Linked DNA regions of Homo sapiens. The protein of the gene in region 2 interacts with the protein of the main gene of each other region in a biochemical or structural test. Each region holds a gene or a part of one and is shown on either strand. Other genes may lie near its edges.

Region 1 (7,329 bases), on a different chromosome or scaffold from region 2:
CCACAGTTAGCAAGAATAGAGAGCAGAAGAGTTACAATATCATAAAGCAGAATCAACAGATGTTGGCTACAGACAAGATATGATGAAATGGGAAAAGGTTTGGGTTTGGTATGACATCAACAAAAATAAAGAACACCAAAGAGGCAAGTTTGCTAAGGAAAAGCAGCTCAGAACAATCAGGTACAGATATGTAGAAAGCAACTGAATAAAAAAGAAAAAACAAAACAAACAAACAAAAAAACGTGATTCAGAAGACACATAAACAAAGAATTGAGAATTATTCCAACAGAAAGGTCTGAACAATCATTCTAAGGGACTAGAGACATAGAGAAAAGTGATCTGAAAAGTGAAACTTGGAGAACGCATATTAAAGAGGAAAGAAGAAACAGAAGGCAGAAAAGTGGCGGAGAGGAACAAAGTCAGTATAATGTCACAAAAGGCCCCTCTTCATCTAGTTAATAGTTAACTCTTGCTCATCCTTCACAATCTGCCTGGGTTCCAACAAAGCAATTTTAAGGTATCTTTCCCAGATTCTCCCACCACCACAAGCACCAGATCAGGTCTCCATTTGAAGTTCTTATAATATTCTGCACCTTAATTAAAATCACAATTATATTTAACTAGAGACTTTATTTTTCAATAAGTATTTCCCCACTAGACTTTAAGCTCCATGAGGGAAGGATCTGTTGTATCTTACTGCCTTGGACCCTGTGTTAGAATACAGCGAGTATAGATGAATGAAACCCAAGGAGAGGCATCTGAAAATGTGAAGTCGATGTTAAATCTTACAGAAAACTCAAGGAGAGGACTTAGAAAAAGGTAGTTAAATGTGTTGATTAGGTTATAGTTCCTTGTGAAGGTGAAATCCAGATAACAAGGGGTTAAGAAATGAGTGGCTAGCCACCAACCAGGCAAAGGCAGGAAAAGCAGACTACACTTGGCAATCTCTAGAGATGGATTGTGAATGACTAAATTTTAATTTCAATGTTGCGCTAGTTCGCAATTAACAACCATGTGTTACTTTTATTACGAACAAGCTTTTTAAAATGTTAATAAGATTTGAAAAGGAAAAGCAGCAACAAGACAGCTTGAAGGAGTAGCAGACTTAAGAAAAGGTTTTTGTAAACTGAAAAAATCTTAAGAACATTTGTACTTTAAAGAACCCAAATACGACAGAGAAAATAACTCACGCTCCACTAAGCAGGAAAATTAGAAGGAAAGGAAAAAAACCCCAAGGTGTTAACTAATAAGAAAGACAAAAAAAAAAAAAAAAATTCTCCCTCTTTGACGGAAGGTTAAGAAGCCAGTAACAGAAGGAATTTAATGAAGGAGCTCCTGCTAAGTGCCTCAACCTCTTCTGTAAAGGGTGGGGAGAAGTGAAGAAAGTAGAAAAAGTTTAAAGTGGGCTCCACGGAAAATGGAGGAAAAATTAAACAAGAACTGAGTCTGGTTCTACTAAAAACGCATTCTACATTTCAATCGGCCTTTCATACACTCACCCCATTCCTAGATCAGAGAATTGCCCATATTTTAGCTTCAAATTTAAAAATCTAAATAATTCTGGTTCACATTCTTTATTTCAACAACTGAAAACAATGAGACGCATTAAGTTACACTCTAATTCAAAGTTTAACTCCTCTCACAAGTAAATACAATAAAGTAGTTGTTTTCAACTCCAGCAACAAAATAGCGATAATTTCAAGTAAGAGTAACTGAAAAATGTTCCTAAACGTAAAAGTGTTTGCAAACAGTTTTGGTTTTTTTTCTTCCTAATTCGTTTGCCAGAATACGATGTTCCTGGGTTCAAATCCCAGCTCCCTTAGACAAGTTAGTTAACCTCTTTGCGACTCGGTTTCTTCCCCTAAAACAATGAGGAATACAATAAACCAGAATCGTTGTAAGGATTAAATGACGTAACACAGGTGCCAAGTTCATACTATGTACTCTGAACAGTTTGTTAACCGCTTAAAAGAGAAAACCTGCAGGAGTTTGACCAAATTAAAACATCTGAGAGCATGAAAGAGTACCACGCTCAAACGCCAGACCCTAACACACAGCATATTATTTTTCTTCCCTGACGCAAGCTCATTTTTTTTTCCTTGCCAAATCTTTCCACTAGGAGTCTGGAAAGAGAAAAAAGGGTCCAGGCAATCCAGCAGAAAGTTTTCCAAAACTGAAGTACGGAATCACCAGGCCACGGAGCGGAGGCCGCGCAGGACAACAGGTGAAGCAGCTCCGGGAGCTCGGGGGCCAGGGCCCCTTCCCGCGGGGACTCGGGGGCGGGCCGGCTGCTCCTCTCACTCGACCCCCGCCCGAAACTCATTTTGTTCTCCCCTGTTCCTCCCCACAGCGTCCGGAGCCAAATCACAAATATCAGCCTCGCCGCTCCGGGGCGGGGAGGTGAGCGCCTTTCCCATTTAAGGATTCCAGAAGCGTCCCCGGAGCGACTTTCGCCCACTCCGCATCCCCAAACTCGGCCTGCAACCCGCGAGTGGGAGACAAAAGAGGGGCCGGCGGGGGACGCGGCGCGGGGTGCCGTGGGTCTCTGGCTGGGCGGTCCCGGCCCAGCGCGCGCCGAGGCCTGCGGAGCTGCCGGGGCCGGGCCGGGCAGCCCCTGGCTCCGGCCACCGCGCGCCCAGCTGCCTCTGCAGCCTCGCCCGAGCCCCTCTGGCCTCCCCGCTGCGGCCAGCCCCTCCGGTCCGCACGCGCACTCCCAACTCACCCGGACCCCAGGGAACGCATCCTCCAGCCCTCGGCGCGGAGCGGGTGGGCGCGGCGAGCCGCCGGGGCGAAGTGGGGCCCGAATCGGCCTTCGCCCTTGGCGTGCAGCGGCCCCGACCCGGTCGCCCCTCGATCGGGCCGTGCGATCTTCGCCGCGCGCGGACGGACGCGCCGAGCCTAAGCCTTCCTGCCCGCCCTTGGCCCTCCTCCCTCCTCGCTCCTGCCTCCTCCCTTCTCCTTCGCCAAGCCCGGCAGGCGGATTCCAATCTCTGCAGCGGCCGCCGCCACCGCCGCCGACTCTTGCCAGGAGGGGAGGGGGCGGCGCGGGTGCGGGGGCCTGGGGGAGGGGCGGGCGTCCGCGGGCCTTGCACGGCGCGCGCGCACTGGGAAGGCCCCCGCCCGCGCCGCGCGCACCCGACCACGGGCGCCTGCCCCGCCCCGCCCCGGACACGAAAAGAGCCGAGCGCACGGCGGAAGCGCCCGAAGAGTTCGCGGAGCCCGGCGCCCAGTTGCCGGGGAGGAGGGCCAGCCGCCGGCAAGGGGGCGCCGAGCTGCTGGTGCGGGCGGGAGTCGGGGCTGCTCCTCCGCGCGGGCCCGCCGGCCCCTCCCCACAAGCCAGCCCCACAGCTGCCGCCCGGGTAGCTTCCCGCAGACGCCGTAGGTAGCACGCGATGGAACGCGGCGGAGGGGAGCGTGGACACGGCTGCCGGGCGCTGCGGCCATCGGCGCCCTGGACGCCCGCTCCGGCCTTCGGGGCCGGATATCCCCACTCTCGCGGGCTCTTTCGCGTGGACCCCTCCTCCGGCCGACACTCACACTGCGGTGAACGCCAGTCAGCTGGCGTGAAATAAGGTCGCTGGGAAGGCACCAAGTCACCAAGGTGGGGGATGGCCAGGTCGTGGTAGTTGCGACAAAGAAAAATATAAGTCACATTGCATTTGTTTCTCGCCCACCCACCGCTCCCGGCGTCTCTTCCCGGGCTCCTTGCCAGCGTGCCGAGGCGCAGGCAGGGTGATGGAGGCTCCCCGGCCGGGAGGATCTGCCGGGGAGAGCGGCTTCCCTCATCGATTCGGGAGCGCCAGGCCCGGCGCGCCCGGGCTCCTGTGACCTGCGAGCCCGCGAATTCCAGCGGCATAAGATAAGGAGCGGCGAGGGCCCAACAGGACTGAGGTCAGCCAGCTATAAATACGCCTCCAGCTCCACCGCGGGCTCACGCTGGTGACCTCGTGTACCCTCCGGAGGCTCATTCCGTCCATTTGGAAAATGCAAATAATTGTCACCACCTCTTTTCTTCCATTTCCCCTCATTCATGGTGGAAAATGCTTTTAAAAGTATTCGATGACCCGTATGTGAGGAAAGAGGAGATAGGCCCCTTTTTCACCAAATGTGACTTTAACCTCCTTAGTAATCCAAGAAATGTATCAAGTTTAAGTCACTTAACAAAAGATGTTCTTTTAAAGGTGCATTTTAAAAAATCACTTTTAAAACTGGGTAAACTGGGTAAAAAGAAAGGGGGAAGGAAAACAATGTGCCAGGCATTTGTATTGACACACATTCTTGCCTGAAGAGGTGTTTAGATTCCAGGGTATTCCCTTATATTCTGGTATAAATGTTTGAATTCCCGTGTATTTTGTTTCAATTTTTTGGTTTATCTTTTATTCTGTCTCCCTTTTCTTCTTTTACCCGCCTTTGCCCTTAATGCTGCAGATAGCCTCTGTCATTCTGAATTATTTTTCAATTCTGTTTTCTTCCCTAATCTTTTTTTCTGGGCTCTTCAGCTGTCTCAGGTTTGACAGTCATGGGTTGTAGTATCTTGCTATGCAGGAAGAAGAGGATACGTGAGATTACTTGCATCAACTAAAATTGGTCACTTTTCTTTCTCAAGTTTCCTTCATAATACCCAGTTTTAGTTTTTTTGTTTTTTGGGGTTTTTTTGTTCTTTTTTTTTTGAGACGGAGTCTCGCTCTGTCGCCCAGGCTGAAGTGCAGTGGCGCCATCTCGGCTCACTGCAAGCTCCGCCTCCTGGGTTCACGCCATTCTCCTGCCTCAGCCTCCTGAGCAGCTGGGACTACAGGCGCCCGCCACCACGCCCGGCTAACTTTTTGTATTTTTAGTACAGACGGGGTGTCACCGTGTTAATAGGTGTTCTCGATCTCCTGACCTCGTGATCCTCCCGCCTCGGCCTCCCAAAGTGCTGGGATTACAAGCGTGAGCCACTGCGCCCAGCCCCAGCTTTAGTTCTAAAGGAAAAGATGGGCCTTTTGCTTAAGGAGATTCACATTGATTGGTCAAAGCTCTCATTGACGTATGCTGAGCAATGTGTCGGCAGAGAAAACCATGGCAAGCGTGTTATTATGCTCTTTATAGTCTAGTTGGATTTTTAGACATATGAATTGGTCTATAAAATAGACAACAATCTCAGGTGGGAACCTTAGTACATCAAGTTTCTGAAATGTACAAATGAGTATTCCCTGGCTTGTGTTATCTGCCACTGTAGAAATGAGAGCAAAATTGAAGCATCAAATTTTAAGTCGTGATATGTTTGCTTCTCTGCAAAAGACTCTCCTTTTCAAATCTTCAGGAATTTTTCGCTCTCCTTTGATAAGGCCCAGCTAGTACCCAGGCTTCAATCCTCAGCGCCCTGGCTACCAGCAGCTAGTGGGGCATGCTGTTCTCCCTGGCTACTGGCATGTTTATGCATGCCAGCCCGTTTCTCCGGTCTGTCTGCCCAGGGAGACATCTGGACACGTGTGTTCTGGCCCCCAAACTCAAAAGCAACATCTCGGGATCCACAGTTAACATTCCGTAATGTGTTGGTATTCCTTTAAGTGGGTTACTAGAATAGGCTGGAAATGGTCTTTTCTTCTGTCCAGGTAGGTCACAAGAGAGGTAGTTGTTACATGCCCAAAGCAGCATTCATTAATTACATCGTGCATTTAGTTATTTGTTTGTGGTCTGAGCCCCTCTGCTCCACTAGAATATAAACTCCATGAGCAAAAGACTTTGTCAGTCTCTCTTTTTTTAGAGACAGGTTCTCACTTTGTCACCCAGGCTGGAGTGCAGCGGCATAGTCATAGTTCACTGTAACCTGGAACTCCTGGGCTCACGTGATCCTCCCCCCTCAGCCGCCCAAGTAGCTGGGACTACAGGCCAGCTTGACTTTGTCAATCTATTCTCAACTCTCTCCTCAGAGCCTAGTGCCTGGCAAGTGAATATTTGTTAAATGAGAGAAGAGAAATAAGCATACATATCCTCTAGGCATTTCTAAACCTTGTCACCAAGACCCTTTTAGTGTTAGAGGGTGGCATGGCTATCTTGGAAAGAGTGAAGGTTGGCTGGGAAAGCTGTGGATCACATCCTCTTCAGTGAAATGGGACTTCTGCCTTCAGGGATCCAAGGTGAATAGATTAATCCAAGCTAATCCATTCAAAGTCATTTTCATGTTGTAAAGATCTTATAAGGCAAAAGGCAGCACGAAGTCTCTGGGTCTGATGATAAGTTAGAGGCCAGTAAGGAGGCACGAGTGAAGGAATGCCATTGGTAGGGTGACCCTTTAGGTTGGCTTCAAACCCAATATTAAATGGGTAGGTGTTAGGGAGAATAAACAGCTTCATTTTTCAGCATGGACACTACTACATCTTTTTTTTTTTTTTTTTTTTTTTTGGTTAGTAGTACCCCATCATGGCTTAGAAGGACTAAACTGAAACAGAAACTGTGGTTAAGAATAAGATGGATGTATATAATTCAGTGCACAAAATAGAGGAAGTTTAAAAACCTGAATTCATTTTCATTGTGGTGGTACAGTGTTTTACTTCTTTTGTTTACTTCTAAACAACTTGCTCCTTCTCCCTTAGCTCCATTTTAATTTATCTTTGCCTCAAAGCACTGGCTACTATGATTGAAAGATAGATGATGGAGGATATTGCTGCTCTCACTTGGTCCTACCTAGTCCGTGGCCTCTGTATTCCTCCTTTCCCTACTATCCGTACACCCTTTACCATAGAACCTGATCTTTCCTAGGCCTTGAGGCAGGAAGAATTATCAGAGCTTTGGTCCCAAGCTCAAGACTCAGCCTCCCACTGCCTCGCCCCTTTCTAAGAACTGACAGCCCTTCTCTTGTGTCTGAAACCCTGACCTGTTAGCTTGCCAGGACCTGGAATTTCTCTGCTTGTTGTTTGGACTTAGCTGCATCCCTGCACCCAGACTGCTGGGCAGTTGTAGGTATTGTTGGTGGCATCACTTAATTGCCTCCAGCTCTTTGTTTCTAGGCTCCCTGTATCTGTATTCTATCTATCTGTTGGGCCTCCCTTCCCCCATTACCTCAGGCTGGATGTCCCCATCCCCACTGCGCTCCTGGACTACCACCTGTTGTTTGCTCACTACTCTCTGGCTATCAGGCACTGCCTAGAGGACTATGGTTCCTCCCACCGAGCACCGGGAGCTGGGGCCTCCCTACCCCAACTCCCACGCAGCCCACAGTAGATCTTGGCCTTCCCTGTCCTGCTGCAGCTCACTGCCCTGCTTTTCCCTATCCTCACAGCACCTGGTTTATTGCACTTGGATTATTTTTTAACCAGATGAAAACTATATATAATATATATGCTCTGG
Region 2 (7,703 bases):
TGAAATGTTTGCTTTCATTTACTTCCTGGACTTGAATATTTTCCATTTCTAACATCTCCAAGGCCCAGAACTATAATAGGTCTCTGAATTTGGGGGGCCCTAGAAACCTGGCTCAGGCTAGGGTGGAGAGAGGACTGTCGCCTCTTTTCCTCTCCAGGTGCTGCCCTTCTTTTCATTGTATTCCTCAAATCAGTAAAAATCAAGAAGGTGAAAGGGTTCTGTGACCAGTCATGGTAAGGGTTCTGTGACCAGTCATGGTAAGGTATGGGGAGGGGGTTACCAGGGACTTTTAGGACTCTGGAAGTTTCTAAAGGACTAGCAAGGGGCCAAGCCTCTGATAGAATTTGTCGTCAGGGTGGGCTCTAAATGAGCTGCCCATCCTGGTTTGGGTCCCCCTACCCAAAGGAAAGGAACACCAGAGAACATCTCTTGGTTTAACAAGAGACCGAGACTTGTTTATTTTCCTCAATAGAAGTTCAGACCATAAAATGTCAAATAGACTTGAAATACATCTCTATCTGAAAGGCAGCAGGACTAGCCAGGTTCCCGAGGAAATAAATATCAAAGAGGCCAAGGCAACTATCTCATCAGGAGTCTGCGATGCTTTTATAAGCAGAACTTTGGCTGCCAGGCTCTAGCAAGACAAGAGGTACAAGGAGAGCCTGCTAACTAAGCACCCCCCAAGGCAACTACGTAACTTCAAAGGGCAAAAGAAAGAGGAGAACCTCCGCTTACCACAGCCGGGTAGAAATGCCTGAGGAAAGCAGCGGAGCTGACCGTGCCAGCATTTACACAGGGAACACTTCTTGGGCAGCCAGGTGTCATGGGGCACAGACCCACAGTTCCTGAGAATGAACAGGTAAGGCGATAGCCTTGGGTCTGAAATTTCCACTTCCCTTTCTCTCTCCTCTCCACGGCTCCCCGCCCCTCTGAATTGCTTACTCTTTGCGCACATCGTGCTCACAGTTCCGTCCGTAGAAGGAGGGAGGGCAGGCACAAAAGGACCCCAGCATGCAGGTTCCCCCATTCAGGCAGCAGGTTCTGTTTAGCTCCTTACCTGAAAGGTAAGAACAGATGACTGAGGGTGTAGGGATGGAAAAGTGCAAGGGCAATTCCTGTAAGCGAAGGTTAATACAACACCAATGTGTTGTATCAGAGTAAGTCTCTGTGCCTTTGAGCAGAGAAGTCATTTTCATGCATAGGCCAGTGGTGGTTCTGGGTTCCCCAGTGTGAAGTGGACTCAGGGGAGGAAAACTGCACTCTAGGGAAGTAAAATACACAATCCTTGTCTCACTTCCAAAACCAAAAGCAGTCCAGCACCTGCACAGTTCCAGAACCAGGTGCCCTTTTAGGTGAAAGAGTGTTGGAAAGATACTCAGGAGACACATGAAGGGCCAGGGCAGAAGCATCGAAGTCAGGCAGTTCTTACTGTGCTGTATCCCCATGGGCGGCACACGCTGGGAAGACCGAGGCCGAATTGCAGGCTCCTCCTGGGGCCAAATGCTGTCATCTCTGAAGGCCAGGTATCCCCGAGATGGACGAGCAAATTCCTGATGGCCCAGCCCTTAACGACAAAATCAATTCATGGAGTCTGTATTTTAGGCCACATAAAAATTGAGAGTGATCAAAAGAACAAAAGGTCTCTCACCGGCAACTAATCCCAGTTCAAAGACTTTAGAAATGGCCATGATCCAAATCACACTAGGAAGAGGAAGTCAGACATGAGTTAGCCAAACAAAGGAAATAAAACCTTACAAGTTAACACCCAGGTCCTCTCATCACAAGGACAAGACCACAGATCACTGAAAAGAAATTGTAGAGCACCATCTTTCTTTTTTTAATGGCTAATTCATGTAACAAAGAAAAATGTTGAAAAAAAGTCACCAATATCCAAGTCTTTTTAATATATATTATTATTTCTTAGGCCCTGTCCTCACATAAGTACCTAATTTTAAGTAGGTATATGTCTTTTATCTTCTATTTCACATGTTTTCCCCTGCATACAATTTTCATATAAGGATTAAAAAATAGCTGCATCCCATGTTACCGATGAATCATTTTACAAACTACTGTATTTATTTATTTATTTTTGAGAGGGAGTTTCGGTTTTTCACCCAGGCTGGAGTGCAATGGTGCGATCTCGGCTCACTGCCTCCCCTCCCCAGTTCAAGCAATTCTCCTGCCTCAGCCTCCAGAGTAGCTGGGATTACAGGTGCCCGCCACCATGCTTGGCTAATTTTTGTATTTTTAATAGAGACGGGGTTTTGCCATGTTGGCCAGGCTGGTCTCCTGACCTCAGGTGATCCACCCGCCTCTGCCTCCCAAAGTGCTAGGATTACAGGCGTGAGCCACCGCACCCGGCCAAACTATTTTAACCAATCACTTAAAAGGTTTTTAGGTAAAAAATGTGGGTTTTTTTTTTTTTTTTTGCTATTATCTTAATAGTTTTGCCAAGTATTGAATCTGCTTATACCTTTAATCTTTTCGGAAGATTTTAAATTTGGTTGTAGTACTGACCTTTATTTGTACAAGAATAAAGAAACACTATTTCATAGGCAGAGTCATTAACATAAAATGAAAATTAACATTAACACGAAAATGTTAAAAGCCAATGGCAAAGTTAGAAGTAACCATGTGAAATTCCAGGTCTTTCAGGAAAAACAGCAGTGCGGTTGGCAGCTCTTTTAAGGCTTGAGCAAGAGAAAAATCAAATGACAGGTGTAGAACATTACTTCCTAAGCTGGCAATCTCTAGCAATCAAAAAAAGTTCACATTCAAGATTAGCTCATACCTGTAAGAGAAGCGGGCCATCTTCCTGCAGTCCATAGCTTTTAACAATTAGGGGGAAAAGAGGCGTTAGCATCGCTTTAATTCAGAGTCATTGCCAAAACAGCCAAAGGAAAACATTCATCTCCTAAAGCGAAAATGGCAATTTAAGAAGAAAATGAGAAATTCGTTTTCCCCAGAAGGTCGTAGCAGAAGCAGGAGCAAGGCGTCCAGGGGAAACTGGAGGGCTTTCGGCCTTGGACGTTTTGACCTTGAGCTGGAGACTCAGCCTTTCCGGGGATTCTCCTTCTTCAACAACAAACCCCAGTCGGGGCGGGGAGACCTTTCAGGTGGGCGGGACGCCCACCAGCATGACAATGGCCCACACGCGGGAAGAGGAGTCTTGTAAAACTGTGGTTAACTAGCCCTAATATCTCTATCATTAGTTGCAGGCTAAAATGATCAGAGGTACTCTTTTGGGAAAAAAAAAGAAAAAAGAAAAATCAGTTTCTCTAATCAAGTTGGTGATTCCAGGTTGGAGGGGTGGTGGAAAGTAATTGCTTTAATTAGGAAAACCTGAAAATGTATGGGTCTCAAGGCATTCGATATTTTATTTTATTTCAGGAAGTTTTACTTCCTGAAATTTGCTTCCACCTTTGTTTTTCCAGAAGGGTGTTTTGAGCCCCGTACTCCCCCTGGGGGATACCCGGGTGGCCAAGAAAGGGGTGCTCTCCGCCTGAGGAGCTAGGTGTGTGTGTGTGGGGAAGACTAGGAAGCTTGAAACTGAGATAGAAGTTCAGGGTCAGGAGGGGTTCCTTGGGGGCTCCAGACTTGAAGTGCAAATTCCAGGCGGACGTGAATTCCTGAAAGGACGCGGGAGCCGGCGCCAGGTGCCCGGGAGAGGGGAGGGGCGGCCAGAGGCGCAGCAGCTGGGACTCTCCAGTGGGAGTGCCGGCCTGTTCCAGGAAAAAGTTCTAGAACCACGGCAGTCCGGCATGGGAGGCCATTTCAGCCCCCAATCACGGGAATTTATCTCAGCCTCCCAGCTCCCACAGGGCGGCCTCTTCCAGCCCCTCGCCGTCCTGGCCCCACGACACCGAGAATTACCCCCGGACTCTGATGTGCCGCTTGCAGGGGTAAACGTGTTTATTGAGTGGTTCCACTAAGTGCCAGACGCCCCAGATGGAGAGGCGCGTCTATGAGCCGGAGTCGCCTCACCTAACATTTCAATCCTCCGGGTTATTTCATGTGTTATTAAATACGCCCAAAGTCGTTAATAGTTTCTAAATCGCATTTAATTCCAATTTCTAAAGGAAAGCCTGACGGTTACTTAATGTTGCCAGGCACACAAATGCGAAACTTTTATTAGATAGTTGTTTCCATCCATCTCTGTTTATTGGATTTAGGCCTCGGCAGAAAGAATTGGTAGCATCTGAGGCCATTTCAGCGTCAGTGCCTACCTGTGTGAATGCCATGGATCCACAGGTGCTGGGAAGAGGTGTTATTTACTTCTACACATGATTTTTTTTTTTTTTTTTTTTTTTTTTTTGCGACAGAGTCTCCCTCTGTTACCCGGGCTGGAGTGCAATGGCACGATCTTGGCTCACTGCAACCTCCACCTCCTGGGTTCAAGTGATTCTCCTGCCTCATTCTCCTGCCTCAACCTCCTGAGTAGCTGGGATTACAGGCGCCCGCCACAACGCCCGGCTAATTTTTGTATTTTCAGTAGAGACAGGGTTTCACCATGTTGGTCAGTCTGGTCTCAAATTCCTGACCTCATGATCCACCCGCCTCGGCCTCCCAAAGTGCTGGGATTACAGGCATGAGCTACCGCGCCCGGCCTTACACATGATCTTGGGAGAAGCAAACGTAAAATAATTTGTATTGGGGGAGTGAGGCCCCATCCAGTCAATGGTGGGATGCAGCAACATTTCCAACTCCACAGCAGTTGACTATTTCATTCCTGCTGCGCTTCGCCTCCTCCCTGTGTGGCCTTTTCAGGTGAAATGCTTCAGGTAGCATGCTGAGATTCACAGGGGACAGGGGAACATGGCCTGAAGCTCTAGGAGGCCGGAGGTGGGGGAGGGCTCCGCAAAGGAGAAGGCTAGCCCTGGAGCTGCAAGGAGGTTTAAAGATGTTACTCAGTGTGGTACATTTGTAAGGTAGCTTGTGCACCACAGTCCTCACCAGTCCAAGGTGCTAAGTAGATAAGTAGCGCCCACAATATTAGTCTCACTTTATGGACAAGACAACTAGTTCTATTGGGGGATTTGGATGTCTTGTCTTTAGAGACTGGGCAGGCCTGTGGCAGAACTGGCAAAAGAACACACCCCTGCGTTGCTATTTCCTTATCTAAAGCTCTTGTGGAATTTTTAGAGCTTAAATAGGACCCCTGGAAATCACTGCATTTTCAGAGGAAGTAACTGAGGTCTCCAGTCTGGCGATGTTGTCATTGACGGGACCAGAACCCCAGGATGCCAGCTTTTCAGCCACACAAAATCCCTTCTCTAAGGACCAGAACCCCCTGAAGAGATTCCCATTCCCCATAGGTACTGACTGCAGAGGAAGCCAAGTGGATCCAGGGTATTCAGAGCCTGGGCCAGGTTTTGGGATGGGGGGTGGGGAGAAGGGGAAGGGAAGGGCTGTGGTGTTTAAGAGAGGTTAGATATTTGCCGTTGGGCTGGAGATGTAAGGGCTATTTAACAGGTATTTGATGTCTACTACTGGGCGGCCTGTAGACTGGAGTTTGGCGCTGGAGAAACAGTTGTGAGAAGTAACCCCACTGTGAGGCTGGAGAGAAAGAACAGTAATTGTTGATTCTAATTGTACTAACTGCAAAAAGTTGTTGCTGCCTCCAGGTGGGGGAATTGAATGGCTACCCTAGGATGGCCACTGGTCACCTCTGCTTGGTCACTGTTGAAACTGGGCTGCTGGCCAGCCTCCAGGCCAATGAGTGCTTTGTGTCAAAAGGTCAGGCCTAGGATTGGGAAGTGCTGTGCAACGGGGGTTCCCCAATCACAGGCAGCCCATCTCATCCCTTACAAAAGGCACTGAGAGCAGAAAATGAAAAACAATGCTCTTGGTGTTGGCCATTTCTTGGTACTGCCCTTGAGACATTGTGTATTAAAAACTGGGGCAGAATTGTGTTTAAAAATCACACAAATAAGCATTTGACTTAAAACCATCCAAACAAGAATGGTGGAATGAAATACATCATAATCAAAGGACAGACTTCCTGTGTCTGCCTAAAATTCAAGGAAGAAAATAAACTTGGAGAATGGGATCAATTTTAGCTATCAAAAGCCAATTCGACCTTGTTTAAATAGTTGAGAACACGTAGAACTAAATTCCAACCAAAGAGTTAACAAAAGAATGCCATGTCTGCACTACAATGACAGTATTTCAAGGTAAAAGCCTTCTTTTATCATAGGGCACTTAGGTCTTACCTCTGTCATTGTTCCCTTGAACATCCAGGCAGGCCAGAAGATAAGAGAGAGCAGAGGGGGCGGGGGAGTTCTGTATATGTATGTACCCTCCAGCTGAGGAATGCTGGGGCCTCTAATTTCATCAAGCTTAGCTTCTGTTAACACCTGAGCTACACTCCTGCGGAAGCATTATCCACCCAATGTGTCCTGGCCACACTTCATTAACAAGTTAATGGCTTTCTGTTTTCACTGGCAAACTTACAAATTGCAACTGGAAACTTACTCTGTATTTGCCAAAGGTCTCTGTGTGGGACATAAAAGGACAGATTCCTGCATTCAAAAATCTGCAATTTCAGTGGGGAAGACATGCTCAAGCAAGTCATTTTAGAGCCATATTGTTACATAAATGGCGTAAGAGGAATGGAGAAGGGCTTAAGAGAGGACTTCATTTTTTTTCCGTGCGCCATGGGGGCCGTATCATATTTCTTCCTATGTAGACATAGTATACATTATTTTATCAATGAATAGACATGACATGTTTCCACGTTTTGTGGTGAACTTCCTTGTACATATATCTTGGTGAACGCTTGAGAGCATATTCCTCTTGTAAATTTCTAGCACTGGAATTGCTTGGTTAAAGGGTGGATGCTTCCAAATTATTTTCGAAGAAGCCTGCACCAATCTCCTCTCCGCCCCTCCTCCCTCCCCCTTGAGTTGGTATTGAGAGCTTATCTCCCAAGTACTTACCAGGTCTGGCTGCAGCAAGCATCTTAAATTTTGTTAATACAGTATGTGAAAAGTAGTATTTCATTGTTGCTTGGTTATTGGGTGTTTGTATTTCATTTTCTATGACCTGGCTGGTCCTTCTTACAGAGCACTTGGACTGGCTTCTTTGAGACTCAGCCCAAATTTCATTTGCTCTGGGAAGTCCTTGCTGAGACCATCCTCCCTACTCCAGCTTCCAGCTGTTCTGAGAGCCCTGTCCTGGCAACCACCGTCCCCAGATTTTATCTTGTCTTCACTGCATATATATATATATATATATATATATATATATTTTTTTTTTTTTTTTTTTTTTAGATGGAGTTTCACTCTTTCTGCCCAGGCTGGAGTGCAATGGCGCGATCTCAGCTCACCGCAACCTCCACCTCCCAGGTTCAAGCGATTCTCCTGCCTCAGTCCCCTGAGTAGCTGGGATTACAGGCATGAGCCACCACACCTGGCTAATTTTGTGTTTTTAGTAGAGACGGGGTTTTACCATGTTGGCCAGGCTGGTTTCAAACTCCCAACCTCAGGCAATCTGCCTGCCTCAGCCTCCCAAAGTGCTGGGATTACAGGCATGAGTCACCTTGCTCGGTCTCACTGTATTGTAAACTGCTTTGTGTGTGTGTGTGTGTGTGTGTGTGTGTGTGTGTGTTTGTCTTTCACCAACTCTTCCCCCTATCCTTTATTCCCTTGGACTAAGAGGTCCAGAAATCTGGTCTTCCAGAAACCTTAGCTTCTCCAACCTCT
Region 3 (7,025 bases), on a different chromosome or scaffold from region 2:
CGCATGCCTGTAGTCCCAGTTACTCAGGAGGCTGAGGCAGGAGAATCACTTGAACTGGAAGGCTGGGGTTGTGGTAAGCCAAGATTGCACCACTGCACTCCAGCCTGGCCAACAGAGCGAGACTCAGTCTCAAAAAAAAAAGAAATAGGCAGATAAAGTAAACAGATGTGATATGTGATAAGGCAAATAAAGAGTAATCCTCTCGGCACCCTGTTAGTTTCTGTCCGAGCACGTATGACAATCTGTAATTATGTTGTTCATTTGACTACTTACTTTATGACTATAAGCTTCAGAAAGGCATAATCATATCTGTCTTCATGTTTAATAATGTATCCCAAGCACTTACCATAGTGTCTAGCATGTAGTTCAATATTGATTTGTTAAGTGAATGAATACCTATTTCACCCTCTTTAATTTAGGGTGAGTAAAGTGAAATCTTAATGGCTGTCAAAGGTCAAAGAAGAGTCAGTAGGAAAGTAGGAATTTGAATGACAGACTCTTAAGTTTTAGTCCAAAATATTATACCACATTCAAAATATTGATCTCAAAGTACAGTCATTGAATAGCTTTGTGTTTTCAAAGCTTAAAGTAGCTGGTACCTAAAAAACAGACTTGAGAATCTTTCAAAACTTTACTTCTACTAAAAAGTTTTAAAACACTTAAAAAGTTTAAGAGAAGTTGTCCAAGAAAAAAAGATATTTTAAATTCCCACTAATAAATAGAGACGATTTAGTCCATTGTTTCTTTTTAATGCATGCTAAAACAGTGAGACCTTAAAGAACTCTTTGTAAGGAACCACGATATCTGAATATTCTAGATATTTATTGGCAGCTATCTGGCTCTCTATAATGATATGTTCTTTGGCTGTATCATTTAGTCAGAGTATTATTTCACATTAACTGACTGATAAGTAACCTGCAAATGTAAATATCCCCCAAGAACCAAATCTATATTTTTTAATGTTTTACATACCATATCCTTTTAAATGGGACTTAAAGATAGATTAAAAACTAATATGTAAGATCTACTCTGGACCAGCTACCATGTTATGTGGAGTTATCAATTCATTTAATACATCTTGGTTTACAAATTTTAAAAGTTAATCTCAGAGTTTTAGAAATGTGCCAAGATCTCATAACTTGTCCATGCCCCTTCCTCTTGAAATAATGCCTTGGAGCAAGCTTGATATATCACATATAGTTATGAAGATGGGAAGAACAATAAACTTTTCCTTTAAAATAAAAATTTTAAAGTTAATAATCATAACTACGAAAACTCCTCCCTCTAAGCTTTATAAATAGGCTTACTTTTATTACAATATGTAAAGACTTGATTCATTTTTAAAATCTTTTGAAAGGCAACCCCTCCCCACATGTGTAGCCAGTCCTTCTAATGTAGTAACTCTCTTCTTGCTTTACATTTATTTTCTTTAGCAATATTAGAGAATAAAGTAATTCCCAGTGTGACTACAGCCAACCAAAGAAAAAACTAGTCCAAAAGAATGGTCACTGAAAAGTTTAGGTTTCAAGCGTGAATACCATATACCAAATTCAGAAAAGCATCTAAATCTACTTCCTTAGAACAGTGTATTTTACTGTAGGGTCTCATACAGATTTCAAAGAATATAATCTGGATGACCAGTATGAGTAATTACTGAAATTTGACCATCATTTAAACATAAACAACATATTGAGCCACTAATGTTTAGAATTCTTTAACTAGACTTCACAATGAAGACATATCCATCATACAGTGTCTGCCTCTTTAAGAGAATATTACGTTATCATGTTTTATTATGTACTCTTATTTTTCCAAATACATGTCTTTATTTCTATTCATGCTTATCATCTAAAACTATATCTATCTGTAAACTTTTTTAGTTATGAAGGCACTTTCAATTTTCCTCTGGCTCATTACTTCCTTACCAATTTTATTTAGTAGTGCTACCATTCTACCTTAGTCTTCGAGTTGCTTTTCAGTCCTATATCCACATATGGGGTATTTGGGACATACATCAGGATATGTATCATCCACTCTTACCTCCTCAGTTTTAATTACTTTTCATTTGAATTTAAGGGTTAACCCCCTGAGATTGTCCTACTTCTTCAAGCAATTGTGAACTCTCTTCATCACACAAATCTCTTCCTCAGATTTAGTCAAAATTTCTCCATCCCACCTTGCCTTCATCCATGGTCAAGTTTACTCTCAAATGGCTATTGTGTTCCTGATGCTATTTTGTGTCTTTTCCTTCATATTAACATCCTTCCTAATCTCCGTCTAAGACTTTTTTTCCAGTACTAAGTCCAGCAAGTCTTTCCTAAATTAAAAAATCCCAACTCCCCAAAATTACAATCTAATGTTGTTTCAGCGCCTTCGTGTGTGCTTAATTTATTCGACTAGTCCAAAAGAGAGAAGACCTTAATCAGGGAAGAGCCATGTTCTCCCTTGAGACCAGTTTTCCCTATATTCTATACCTAGGCACACAGTCTCTATTGTAGATTAATTAATGACCATATTTTTCAGTGCATATATTTTTCATTGCACACATTTACATATGAAGCTTCCTTTTCCACTAAGAGAGTACTGAATACAGGAAATAAGGATTGTTGAACTAGGTCACTGGTTTTAGGGATTTACAATCCATTAGTTGGTCAATGAATCAATTAATGGGTCACGATCAATGTTTTTTAAATGAAATGTAATATAAAAATACATAAGTGTCCTGCACATAGTTAAGAGTACACAGTTCATGAAACTTTCATTTCTGATGCACACAGACATATATACATACACCCCTACTACTACATGGGAACTAAGTCATAATGCAATGTGTAATTCCTATTGTGTATTACAGTCAAAAAAGTATGAAAGCCATGGAACATGAGGATACCTAAGATCCCCTCTAAATCTATATAATTCAAATTCTAATTTTAATTATTTAAAAAAATTTAAATTTGAACATAACTTAAAGATATCAAAACAATGAGCAAAATCATCTTTTCTTAATAAAATGTCACCACTGAACTCTAACCTTAAAATTATAGAACCATAAAGCTTTCAGAGTAGGAAAAAAAATCAGGGATCATCTAATCCAAGTTCACCACTTCAATACATTAAGAGGACAACCGTGGCTCAGAGAAGTGAAATAATTTCATTTCATTCATTTAATAAACATTTGCTGAGCACCTATTGTGTACCAGGTTCCAGGAATGGGTGTGTGGATAAAGGAAAGATGTCTTCAAAGAGTAGAAACAGGAAAGTAAACATTTGCACAGTCTAAAGTGGAAACAGGCAAGTAAACATTTGCAATTATTACTGAAATCAAGGTCATTTACAAGGTGTTAGATGAACAGAAAGCAACTAACTCAATCTGGGTTGAGTGACAGAGAAAATGTTTCTAAAGAGGTGATACTTCTCAGTCTTAAAACCAAAAAGGGGTTAGCCAGGTAGAAGAGGAAGAGTAATATGTACAAAGGCACCATACTGATATACAATAAAGGATTACACATTTAAGAAACTGCAAGTCAAGTCTGTATGGATGGAATATAGTACTCAGGCTGAGGAGAAGCTGCAGCAGAATAACTAGCATTTAATATTCAAACCACTCTCTGAGGTAGGCACTATTAATATCCCCCCATTGTGTAGATGAGAAAACTGAGGCACACAAAGGTGAAGTAACTTGACCAAGGTTAAGTTATGAAACCAAGATTTAAACCAATTAGGTCTATATCCAGAGTCTATACTCTTAACCAATACCAAGAGGTTAGAAAAAATAGGCAGGAACCAAACGATGAAGGACCTTTTATGACATTCTAAGACTTTAGATTCTATGCTAAAGGTGACTCACAGTCAGTGAAAGGTTTTAAGCAAGGGTAACATATTCAGATTTATTTTTTAATAAGATCACTCCAGCAGCTATGCAGATGGACTAGAAAGAAAAGGAAGTAGTGATAGGGAACTGGTGAATCTTAGCTAGAAAAGTGCTACAATAATCAAGTAACAGAAAATGATACATAAGCTAGATACTGGCAGCACTGACACCACAGCTCAAGTCTACCAACCTCTACGACCACATTCTTGATCACTATCCATATGAAGTTTCCAATTCTTTCCCTTAGGTCCACCACTCTAACAGTTCAAAAAATCCAATCTCAGAGACAAAAACATATTTCCTTTAAGTCCCTTTATTAAAACAAAGCCTGACCTCTAGATGCACTGGGTATACAAAAGTGACTAACAAGAAATCTAGGTGGAGAATGACAGAAAGTCACTTGCTATCTACAGTAGTTTTCTTACCTTCTTGATTTCTCCTCCTCCTCCTCCTTCCTCTATACACTATTCCTGGAATTTTCATGTTCAATAGTCAATTTGAAATCAATGTTCTGTCTAGACATGACTATTTTACAATCTAACAGAATTAAATCTACCACAGAGGAAGTCTAATGTGGTCCTATCAGCAGCAATAAATATACTCTTGGTTCTAGTCAAATTTTGGCTTAAACAGAGATGATAAATGAATAATAAGATGAGCGAAACTTTTTCTGAAGCAGCAAAGAGTTAAGGAAAACCTGAATATTAAAAAAGAGAATAAGAGCAATCTAAAGTTCAAGCCATTTGATTCTAAGAGAGTAACACTATTCCCAAGAGGGTGTGCGAGGTAGTCCAGAAACCAGTAAATGAAAAAACAGTGGAAAAGACTATCTGGTCAATTCTCAAGCATTCTAAATTCAATCTGTTTTCATTAAAACTACGGGTAAGCCCTCTGGAGTCACCCATGATGCTAAGCCACAACTGGGTTCCACAAGCAAGCAGTATAAGGAAGTACAGAAGGGTCAGGGGAAGAAAAGGGAGTAGACAAAGAAGGGAGGAAAATGGAAAGGGAACAATAATGAAAGGGAATGGAAAAAACAATGAGTTACAGAGCAGTGAGCAAAAAGCTAAGGCATACCAGTGACCCCTAGTATCAAATGTTGCCAACCTTACCTATAATCTGAGACAACATGGCAACTGGCAACTTAACAGACCATGAAAACACAAATTTAAATCATTGGACTCATGAAATATCAAAGATGAGAAAATCATAGTAGCACTTTAAAAAGTCAAAATGCAACAAAATAAAGTCTTGGAATCTAAAGAAACAATTTAGAGATTACTAAAATCTCATTTGGTTTAGTTGTGCTTCTCTTAAGAACAGTGAGTCTGGTGGACCCAAAAGGCGAAAATGTCAGTATCAGAGAGAAGGGTATGGAGAGGTGTGTTACAAAGACACTGTGAGGCTCATTTGGACACCATTTGTGGGAATGACTTCAGAATTTTCCTCTCTATGGTATAATGCTCCTTAATTTGCTAAGAGTTTCACTGTAATTCTTATCTTGGTTGGCTAGGTTAACTCCCTTAAAACCAGAGTTCAAAACAAGGTAAGCATTTTATTAATTATGGTCAAGATTTAGCCTTAAAAAGGGAAACGATCTGCAATAGATCATAAAATATTACTTACTGTATCATGAATTAGTCTAACGGTAACCAAAACCCAGCTAGTGATTCTCAAGATAATTATGTAATTAAGAGATTAGGTTAAAAGTTTCTTGAAATTAAAGTTAGCTAGACAAAAGAAATATCTTTTTTAAAAAAACAGAATTTCTACCTTGAAACTATTCAGGGAACATGTAATAGTGAACATATTTCAGGCAACATGTTACACACACACACGAATACCGCCATAAGGCAGCCCAATGATGTCAGTAAAAATAAAGGCAAATATCCTTAAAGATCATATCATGGCAAAGAAAATCCTGGATCTAAAGCAAATATAATTAAACTTGATACCTTAACCAATCATTCATTATGTCCAGGAACATGCAGTCTTCATGAGCACTCTATCAAAATCGGTGATAGGAGAGTTTATCCATAAGTCATTGGAATATTTTATTATAGTATAAAATATTATACTATACTGGTGAATTCTCAAGCATTTCATCAAGGATGAAAGAATGTGCGTATCTATAGTCTGTTTCTCTAATTTAATCATATTCTAATTTAAAAGATAATGAAAAGATAAAAATCTTTCAATACAACGTTACCTGGAGATCATCAATACCATGTACTTGTAAAATTTAGATTACTAACTTTAGGGGGAAGAGAGCAGAGCCCTTTTACTAATAAACTACTGCTTTTAAAATTTAAGAGTTTAGAACTGAGTTTTTCCTTTTTTTTTAATTTGTATTTTAGGTTTGGGGGTACATGTGAAGGTCTGTTACATGGGTAAACTCGTATAATGGGGTTTGCTGTGCAGATTACTTCATTACCCAGGTATTAAGTCCAGTACCCAATAGTTATCTTTTCTGCTCATCTACCTCCTCCCACCCTCCATCCTTGAGTAGACCCCAGTGTCTGCTGTTCTGTTCTTTGTTTTCATGTTTTCTCATCATTTTGCTCCTACTTATAGGAACATGTGGTATTTGGTTTTCTTAGAACAGGGTTTTTTGACCTCTACACTACTGACATATTGAGCCAGCTAACTCTTTGTTGTGGAAGGCTGTACCATGTATTTTAGGACGATTAGAAGCATCCCTGCCCTCTACCCAACTAGATGCCAGTAGCACACCCCGTCCCCTGTTGTGACAACCAAAAATGTCTCCAAATGTCCCATGGATGGGGATCTGGGGAAGTAGGGAGGGGGACTCACCCCAGCTTGAGAACTGTTGGCTTAGATCATAAACAGGAAAAAAAAATAGAAAATGAATGGAGGGAGAATTTTGTTTCATTTTGTTTCTAGTCTCCATGTTTCAATGTATTATATTTGAATTTGACCACAGACACCATTTATAAGAGATTCTGCCTTTTAGAAAACAAAGTATTTATCATCCATCACTTGTTAATCAAAGTTCAAAAGAATCCCAAAAGATTCTCTGTAATGCTAACTCCCCCTCCAACCACACATACATTCACACATACACAGTACTGCCTAGCTGAACTGAAGAAAACATAATTACCATATTTCCATTTCCTCTTTCATCAAATACATT
Region 4 (7,025 bases), on a different chromosome or scaffold from region 2:
GCTGCTTGCACTGCCCGGGGTTCTGATTGGACAAGAATTTTCACAATTTATTGGAACCAAATCCAAGGTTGAGCCACCTCCAGGAAGCATTCTAAGGAAATTCTCATGCCAGTCAATAAAATTTGTAGTGGGTGGGGGCCAGGGTGGCAGAGGACCAGCGCTGTTCCTTATTCTAACTTTTCTGCTGCTTCTGACTTAGTAAATTCCTCCCCTTGCTCTCTTCCTCTCCTCTCCTTCCACCCTCACCCCCCGCCCCCACCCCGCCTCCAGGTTTCCTGGCAGCTCTGGGGAAATGTTTTATTGCCTCTTGGGGGTAGTCCTAACCTGGACAAAGGGGAGGAAGACTGGCGCTCCTGGCTACTTCACAGAGAATCGTGTTACAGTCCCTGGGAAAACAATTCCTGGGCTTGAACCGAGGTTCTCAGCATTAGCTGCCCTGTAGTATCACCCGGGGGACTTAGAGTTCTAGGGTTATTAGGGCCGCTTCGTGGGCCCAGATCAGTTAGGTCAGAATCTTTTGAGGGTGGGGCACAGGCATCATTTTTTTTAAGTACCTTAGGTTTTTCTAATATGCTACCGTGGTCAGGAAACACTGGCACAGGAGATCCCAATGTCTGAAGGAAATGGATACATTGTCCCAGTAAGAGATGAAGAGCAAAGCTTTCAAACATTGCTACACATTAGAATCACGTGGGTGTTACGTGGGAGGTAGGGGGGAACGCCTTAAAAAAACCCAGATGCCCAGGTGGCACTCCATATCAAATCAGAATGTGTGGAGGTGGAAACCAGGTAGCAGTATTTTTTTGTTCAAAAATAAAGAGGATCTCCCAACGTTGCCCAGGCTGGACTCAAAACTCCTGGCCTCAAGCAATCCCCCTGCCTCAGCCTCCTGAGTTGCTGGGAAGATAGAAGTGTGCCACCATGCCCAGCAGTGTCATTGTTTTGTCAAGATCTCAGGTGATGTCAGTGTTTGGAAACCACTGCCTTAGATGGTATTTGAAATTTCAAGAGCTGGGCCTAAGGCGAATTTGTAAAGTATAGTCATATTTACTGTATTTAGTGACCCTCCAAATTCCCCTTATTCCTTGCTTCTCTGACTTTTCGTGGGCTACAGGGACACACTGCCTCTGAGTCACACTGCTTAAAGCTGGCTGTCAGCTAATCCTTGCTAGGGTGATGGTTTAACATAGTATCTCCCTAGGGATATTGACATTTTTCGTAAAGGATTTTGAAAGATCTAAAAAAATCCCCTAAAAATTTTTAAGAGAACTCACCCAGTAGTGCAATTCCAGGCCCCAAGACAGGCTGACACAGAACTGAAAGAGAATTCTAGGATGGGAATTCTATCCCAAGCCCCTCATATTCCTATCACTGGGCTCCTTGTACAAGTTATAGCTACTGTAGGTCCACTTCTGGACTCTATACTGATAGTGTGAAGAGAAAACCTTTTGCGGGTAAGTAGAATCCAAGCAGCAAGCCATGCCACCTGCCAATGAAGCAATTCTATTTCATCTTAATCCATGTAGCAATAGGAAAGGGGTATTTCATCATCAGAGGCTAGAATGGGGTAAAATCTGATTGCCATGACTCTGAACATAGGAAGGACAGTTCATTTGAACAAAGTTATTGCGTACCAATGTTGGATTCTCTATATAGGGATACTAGAGAATTACAGATTTCCTAATTGCTGTCAATGCCATGTTAACTGCCACATTACCTGACTCATCTATTAAAGAATCTACAGAAAGATAAACATGACAGCGCTGCGTTTTAAAGTACGCTTATACCTACTAGGTTAAGTAAATTACACACTGGAAGTACAAGGGAAAGTATTACATAGTTGTAAACATCCGACTTCCCTGGGACTGGGGGAATAATTTACTCATGAAATACATTTGAAACACCCCGAGCCTTGTAAGCCAGCCGGACTATCAGGAAGTGTGAATCAACAGGATAAATTTCTCTCTCATAGCGCAAGTGCTGGTCATCCAACCAGCTCATTGTTGTTTATGTTGACTGTTTCAAACTCTTTCTGGGTGAATAGGCTGGGATGTGTCACCTTCTAAATGCTAACCGTCTGCTGCCTGGGCTGCTGGTGTGCAGAGTGCCTGGGTGAGCGAGCTCGTGAACTTGCATTCACTCAGGGCCACAGATGCCATTTTCTATTTGTTTTCTAATGCTAAAAATGTCTTGGCAGCCTAGTCAGCATCCCTGCCAATTTGGTGACCTTGGAGAGGTATCCTTCAGGTCTTAGCTTAAAATTCACCTAAGAGAGACCTTCTCTGCCACTCTATATAAACTGGTCATGCCTCCATCCCACCCACTTCTGTACCATGACAGCACTCTGCTTATTTCCTTCCTTGTACTTATCACAAGTTTTTCTTTTTTCTTGTTAAATTTGCTTACTCATTTGTTTGTCTCCCCTGTAGGATGTCAGCCTCCAAAGGCGGAAACCACGCTAACCCACCACAGTAGCCCAAGTGCCTAACATAATGCTGACCACATGGAAGATGCTTTGAAAAGGCTGAATTAGTGAACATATAGACATAGCCCATGCTTCAAATTCATATTTCACTGATTTGGAAGATTTGATTATTTAGAAAGGGTATACCTGATTTTTATTGAGTAAAATGTTTACAGTGAAGACATTTAGGACAGGGAGGTTCACAGTATTTGAGGTAAATCATCGTGCTTTATTAATACACCTTTTTTATTAGTCACCCATATGTATATTAATTTGTAATATGCATTACATTTGAGAGTAGTAAAAACATTTAATTAAATATCTGCATTTCAGATTTCACTTGTTTATTTGAATTCACGAGGTATTTATCTCCAAATGCTAGGATTAAATGGCAATTTAAAAAACTCAAATTGTGTTCAGAAAAGGGAATCAGTATATATTAGTACAAGCAGCAAGAAACTTGTGCTAAAAATACTGGCAATTTTCTGAACAAAATTACTCTTGGGAAACATAAATAAGAAGAAAAATGGAATACTCCCTACTTGTATTTGTAACTAGATATAATGCGCTATCTCTTTCTCCTAAACATAGCATCAGTAGTACTGTTTTTCATTTAAGCTACCTGTACTTAAGAAGATTTTTGTTAGCAGAAAATAAATCCATGCCTGCAAGCTACTCACAGCAAAAACAGTTTGGAGAATTTGGTTGCAAGAGTGTGATTCAAAGAAGCAGTAGATGTTCTTCTAAAGAGATTACAAAGAGTAAATTTGAAATTCAGTGGCATTTCAACAAAAAAAAGTTGTACAAAGTGTTCTTAAACTAAGATCAAAGGGCAAGCAGATACTATTGTTCAGACCTCAGATGGTGTTTCCTCTGGGTGTCCTTCTAAGAATGGGTATAAATCCTTTTTAAATGTGCTGAATCATGGTTAGTTCCTCTATTTGAGAGCTTACCTCTGATCAGCTTGGAGGAGGGCTTCCCTGGGATAAGAATCTGTTTAAATACAAAAACAATGCTCAGTGCTTGCTTTAGCATATAATTTGTTGCCTCTCTGTGTCTTCAGAGAGTAACTACTTTATATGTTGGATTTCAAATTGATATTTTACTTGACTATGAATACTGGCTAAATACTGGCTATCAAATGTAGTATATCAAACGTAGTATATCAAACGTAGCAAACTAAAAGATAGCAGCTCTGCTGTCTTTGCCTCACTCCTATTTACGAAGGTGAGTTAGACAAGGAAAATGAAGAGGGTACAATGTCTTGCATCATGAAGCAGCTTTCTGTAACTTTTTCACAAACCAATCCTTCACTTTCTGCTTCCCATCTTATATCAAAAATGAACTATTCTAGGGAATGATTTTTTTTTTTTTTTAAGACAGTATCTTTTTCTGTCACCCAGGCTGGAGTGCAGTGGCGAGATCTCGGCTCACTGCAACCTCTCCGTCTCCTGGGTTCAATCAATTCTCCTGTGTCAGCCTCCAGAGTAGCTGGGATTACAGGTCTCCGCCACCACACCTGGCTAATATTTTTTTTTTGTATTTTTAGTGGAGCTGGGGTTTCACCATGTTGGCCAGGCTAGTCTCAAACTCCTGACATCAAGTGATCTGCCTGCCTTGGCCACCCAAAGTGCTGGGATTACAGGCTCACGCCACTGCGTCCGGCCAGGAATGACTATTGTTTAACTTAGCACAACGTCGTTACAGTTTTAATTTTTCTACTTCGATCTTTATTCTATTTTTCTTCCTCTTCTGTTCAGAATTTTAGTCATTTTGCCATCTTTGGTGCTTCCAGTAGTGGGAAGAAAAGTAGACAATATTTTAATTAGACAATTTTGTTTTTCACTAGTTTTCATAAATATATGAGTAAAAGGAGTAGAAATCACCGCAGAAACTCCCTAAGATAGGAATAGACAATTTACCAAGGCCCCATTCACGTAAACAGCTGTTACACATTAACCATCCTGTCCCCCCCTCCCTAGGCCACAGCATAACCCAGCCATGTGCCCAGCAGCTGGGCTGCTCCAGCCGCAGGGTGTCACCTGGGGGGCAGATATAGGGCATAGCTGGCATCTTCTCTTGTGTTCCCCGCAAGGAACCAGTGCATTATGTTGTTCTTATTTCCCTGTTTTCATCACGACAGCGGAGTTAACTTTATTCAAATACACTTTCTTTTCTGATCATACCCTTACCTTCTCTTCAACACCCTCACTCCCATCTCTGATCCAGCTTTTACCCACTGGAAACGTGTGAGTCGGAAAACGGCACTAGTCTCTCCTGGAATATATGAAAGTGGTGATAGTTGTATGAAGGGGAAGGAAAGCCATCACCACTTCGGTGAAAATTAGAGTTAACTCTAATTTTTCAGTGCCATTAACCTCTGAAGTTTCGAGAGTACCAGAAATTCTCAGAACCTGCATTCCCCCTGTTCACCTTTTACTACAAGCATTAGAAATCAGTAACACATTGTGGGTCACTGAAATTTATCAGATTTTGTGTTCAGTCACTAGTGTTTTGAAGATTTTGTTGTCTATACTTTTTTTCCAATGTGAATATGTAGTATTTCAGCACCCTATGCATAAAGTTAAGGGTCTGAAGCCAGGCTGGGAACACAGCTACCATCCCTAACATGGTTTTTCTGGGGACACGTATGCCCCAGCAACAGAAAACCCATTTGGGGTTTATTGGTTAAATGAGTTTGGGATAACTGGTGAATGTATGTTCGCCATAGATCATAGAATTTAGAGCTTGAAAAGTTCTCGCATATCATCTAATCTGTTTGTTCGCAGTTAAATTTGTTAGATGTTTTCACCACCATTTTCTCTTTACTGCTGTTACCTCTTAAGATTGAGGGACAATCCATGAAAACACACAGAGATCCTAGTGCATCAGAGCAATAGGGCTGTTGGCCAGGCTGGAGTGGATAATGAAGGAGAAATTACAAAAGCAGGCAAGAGCACAACCCTGGAAGAGCCGAGGAAACCCAAATCTGGAATTGTTGGGGTTTTCTCTTAGTGGATAGCATCTTCTCCAAGAACTCTACTTTTAGAAAAGAAAATGCTATGTATATCTATAAATGTCCAAAGGACTGTTGACTCCAAAGAATTGTTTTCTGCTCCGAAATTGAGTTGAAAACCACGTTGCTCTGAGTGGCATTGTTCCACTGATATCCACTGATTCTCTTCCTGCCCTTCCCATCTCCATTATTAAGGAGATTGGGACCATAATAGAGATGATATCTAAATTACATCAGTTAATTCCTTGATGGGTCCCCACGGTCTCGTTATCTCAAGCACAGTCCCAGATGACTGGGTCGAAGAATCTCCTTCAAACATTTTTGCAGGATGAGGTTCTGGTTCCAAGTGGGAGAGCCTTCCTGACTTTCAGATTTATAGGCATACGCCCTTGATGACTGATCCTCCTGCTGGCCAGGTCAGGATTGTCCTAGGCCTAAAATGTCCTTGCCACACAGTGCCGATTATATGTTCAGATTGTTTTCATATCACCAAAGAGCTCAGCTGGCCACGGGGGGAAGTGGAGTGGAGTGGATTCACAGGGCGCAGAAAACAGTGCCCCTCGGAGGCAGAGCCCCGGAGCCCGCTCCACCCTGACCTCCGATATCCGCCACGGGCCTTATTATCACTCTCCTGCCGCTTGCCCTTTCACCGTCCAGAACGTCTGCGTTTGTTGATTGTTGTTGCTGTGTTTACAGTCCTGTTGGTTTCCTGTACGTGAACATGGGCTGGAAAAAAAATTCTGATTTGTGTCTCAGCAGAGCATGAGTGAACCATATCATTGGTAAGAGCTGATTAGGCCAGGAGATTTCTTATAATATTAGCCTTGCTTATTCTCTGAGACCAGTTATTTTCCCTCCCTCCTTTTGAATCTATGAATTACATTTAAATAGTCCAAAGACTGAGTTTTGTAAACTACAAAATTAAGGACTAAAAGTTTTTACTTAATTTTGATTTTTATTCAGATTTTATTTGTAGACTCCCATATCGGAATAAGTTAACAACGGAGAAGCTGTACATTTTTTAGAAAGAGAGGGTTTTTTTTTAAGATCAGTTTGAGGTTCACAGCAAAACTGAGCAAAATTTTGCAGAGATTTCCCAGGTACCCCCTGCCCCACAGGTGCACAGACTCCTCCATTATCACCCAGCAGAATTTGGTATCTTTGTTGCAATTGATGAACTTATATGGACACATCATTGTCACCTAAAGTCTGTAGTTACATCCCGGTTCACTCGTAGTGTTGCAGATTCTGTGGATTTGGACAAATGTGTAATGATGTTATCCACCGCTATAGTATCATGCCGAGGAGTTGTGAAACTACTCTGCCCTACAAATCCTCTGTGGAGAAGCTGTACATTAAACAAGGAAAAACAAGTCAATGAAAGTATAAAAATTCAAAATACGCAGAGTTCGGGGAAAGAATTATAAAATACCTCAGTTGAAGAATATTTTGTTTCTGGGGTTTTACTAAAGTGGTCCCTAAGGAAGTAATTTTGATAGTCTATGACAATGTGGGATTTATTTTATAGTGCTTCTATGTGTTGAC

Evidence for each region.
Region 1: the proteins of CRIPTO (region 2) and BMPR1A form a complex in vitro, tested with the Homo sapiens proteins (one study listed by BioGRID).
Region 3: the proteins of CRIPTO (region 2) and ACVR2A form a complex in vitro, tested with the Homo sapiens proteins (one study listed by BioGRID).
Region 4: the proteins of CRIPTO (region 2) and BMP6 form a complex in vitro, tested with the Homo sapiens proteins (one study listed by BioGRID).

The regions. Positions count from the first base shown.
Region 1 is NC_000010.11:86,752,313-86,759,641, reverse strand, and holds the start of BMPR1A (bone morphogenetic protein receptor type-1A isoform 3 precursor), read right to left. Parts: upstream 3,024-7,329; 5' UTR 2,723-3,023; intron 1-2,722. UniProt on the Homo sapiens protein: On ligand binding, forms a receptor complex consisting of two type II and two type I transmembrane serine/threonine kinases.
Region 2 is NC_000003.12:46,573,093-46,580,795, reverse strand, and holds the start of CRIPTO (protein Cripto isoform 1 precursor), read right to left. Parts: upstream 3,009-7,703; 5' UTR 2,827-3,008; coding exon 2,792-2,826; intron 1,702-2,791; coding exon 1,649-1,701; intron 1,565-1,648; coding exon 1,430-1,564; intron 1,058-1,429; coding exon 943-1,057; intron 846-942; coding exon 736-845; intron 1-735. UniProt on the Homo sapiens protein: GPI-anchored cell membrane protein involved in Nodal signaling. Cell-associated CRIPTO acts as a Nodal coreceptor in cis. Shedding of CRIPTO by TMEM8A modulates Nodal signaling by allowing soluble CRIPTO to act as a Nodal coreceptor on other cells.
Region 3 is NC_000002.12:147,848,006-147,855,030, reverse strand, and holds part of ACVR2A (activin receptor type-2A isoform 1 precursor), read right to left. Parts: intron 1-7,025. UniProt on the Homo sapiens protein: On ligand binding, forms a receptor complex consisting of two type II and two type I transmembrane serine/threonine kinases.
Region 4 is NC_000006.12:7,729,075-7,736,099, forward strand, and holds part of BMP6 (bone morphogenetic protein 6 preproprotein), read left to right. Parts: intron 1-7,025. UniProt on the Homo sapiens protein: Growth factor of the TGF-beta superfamily that plays essential roles in many developmental processes including cartilage and bone formation.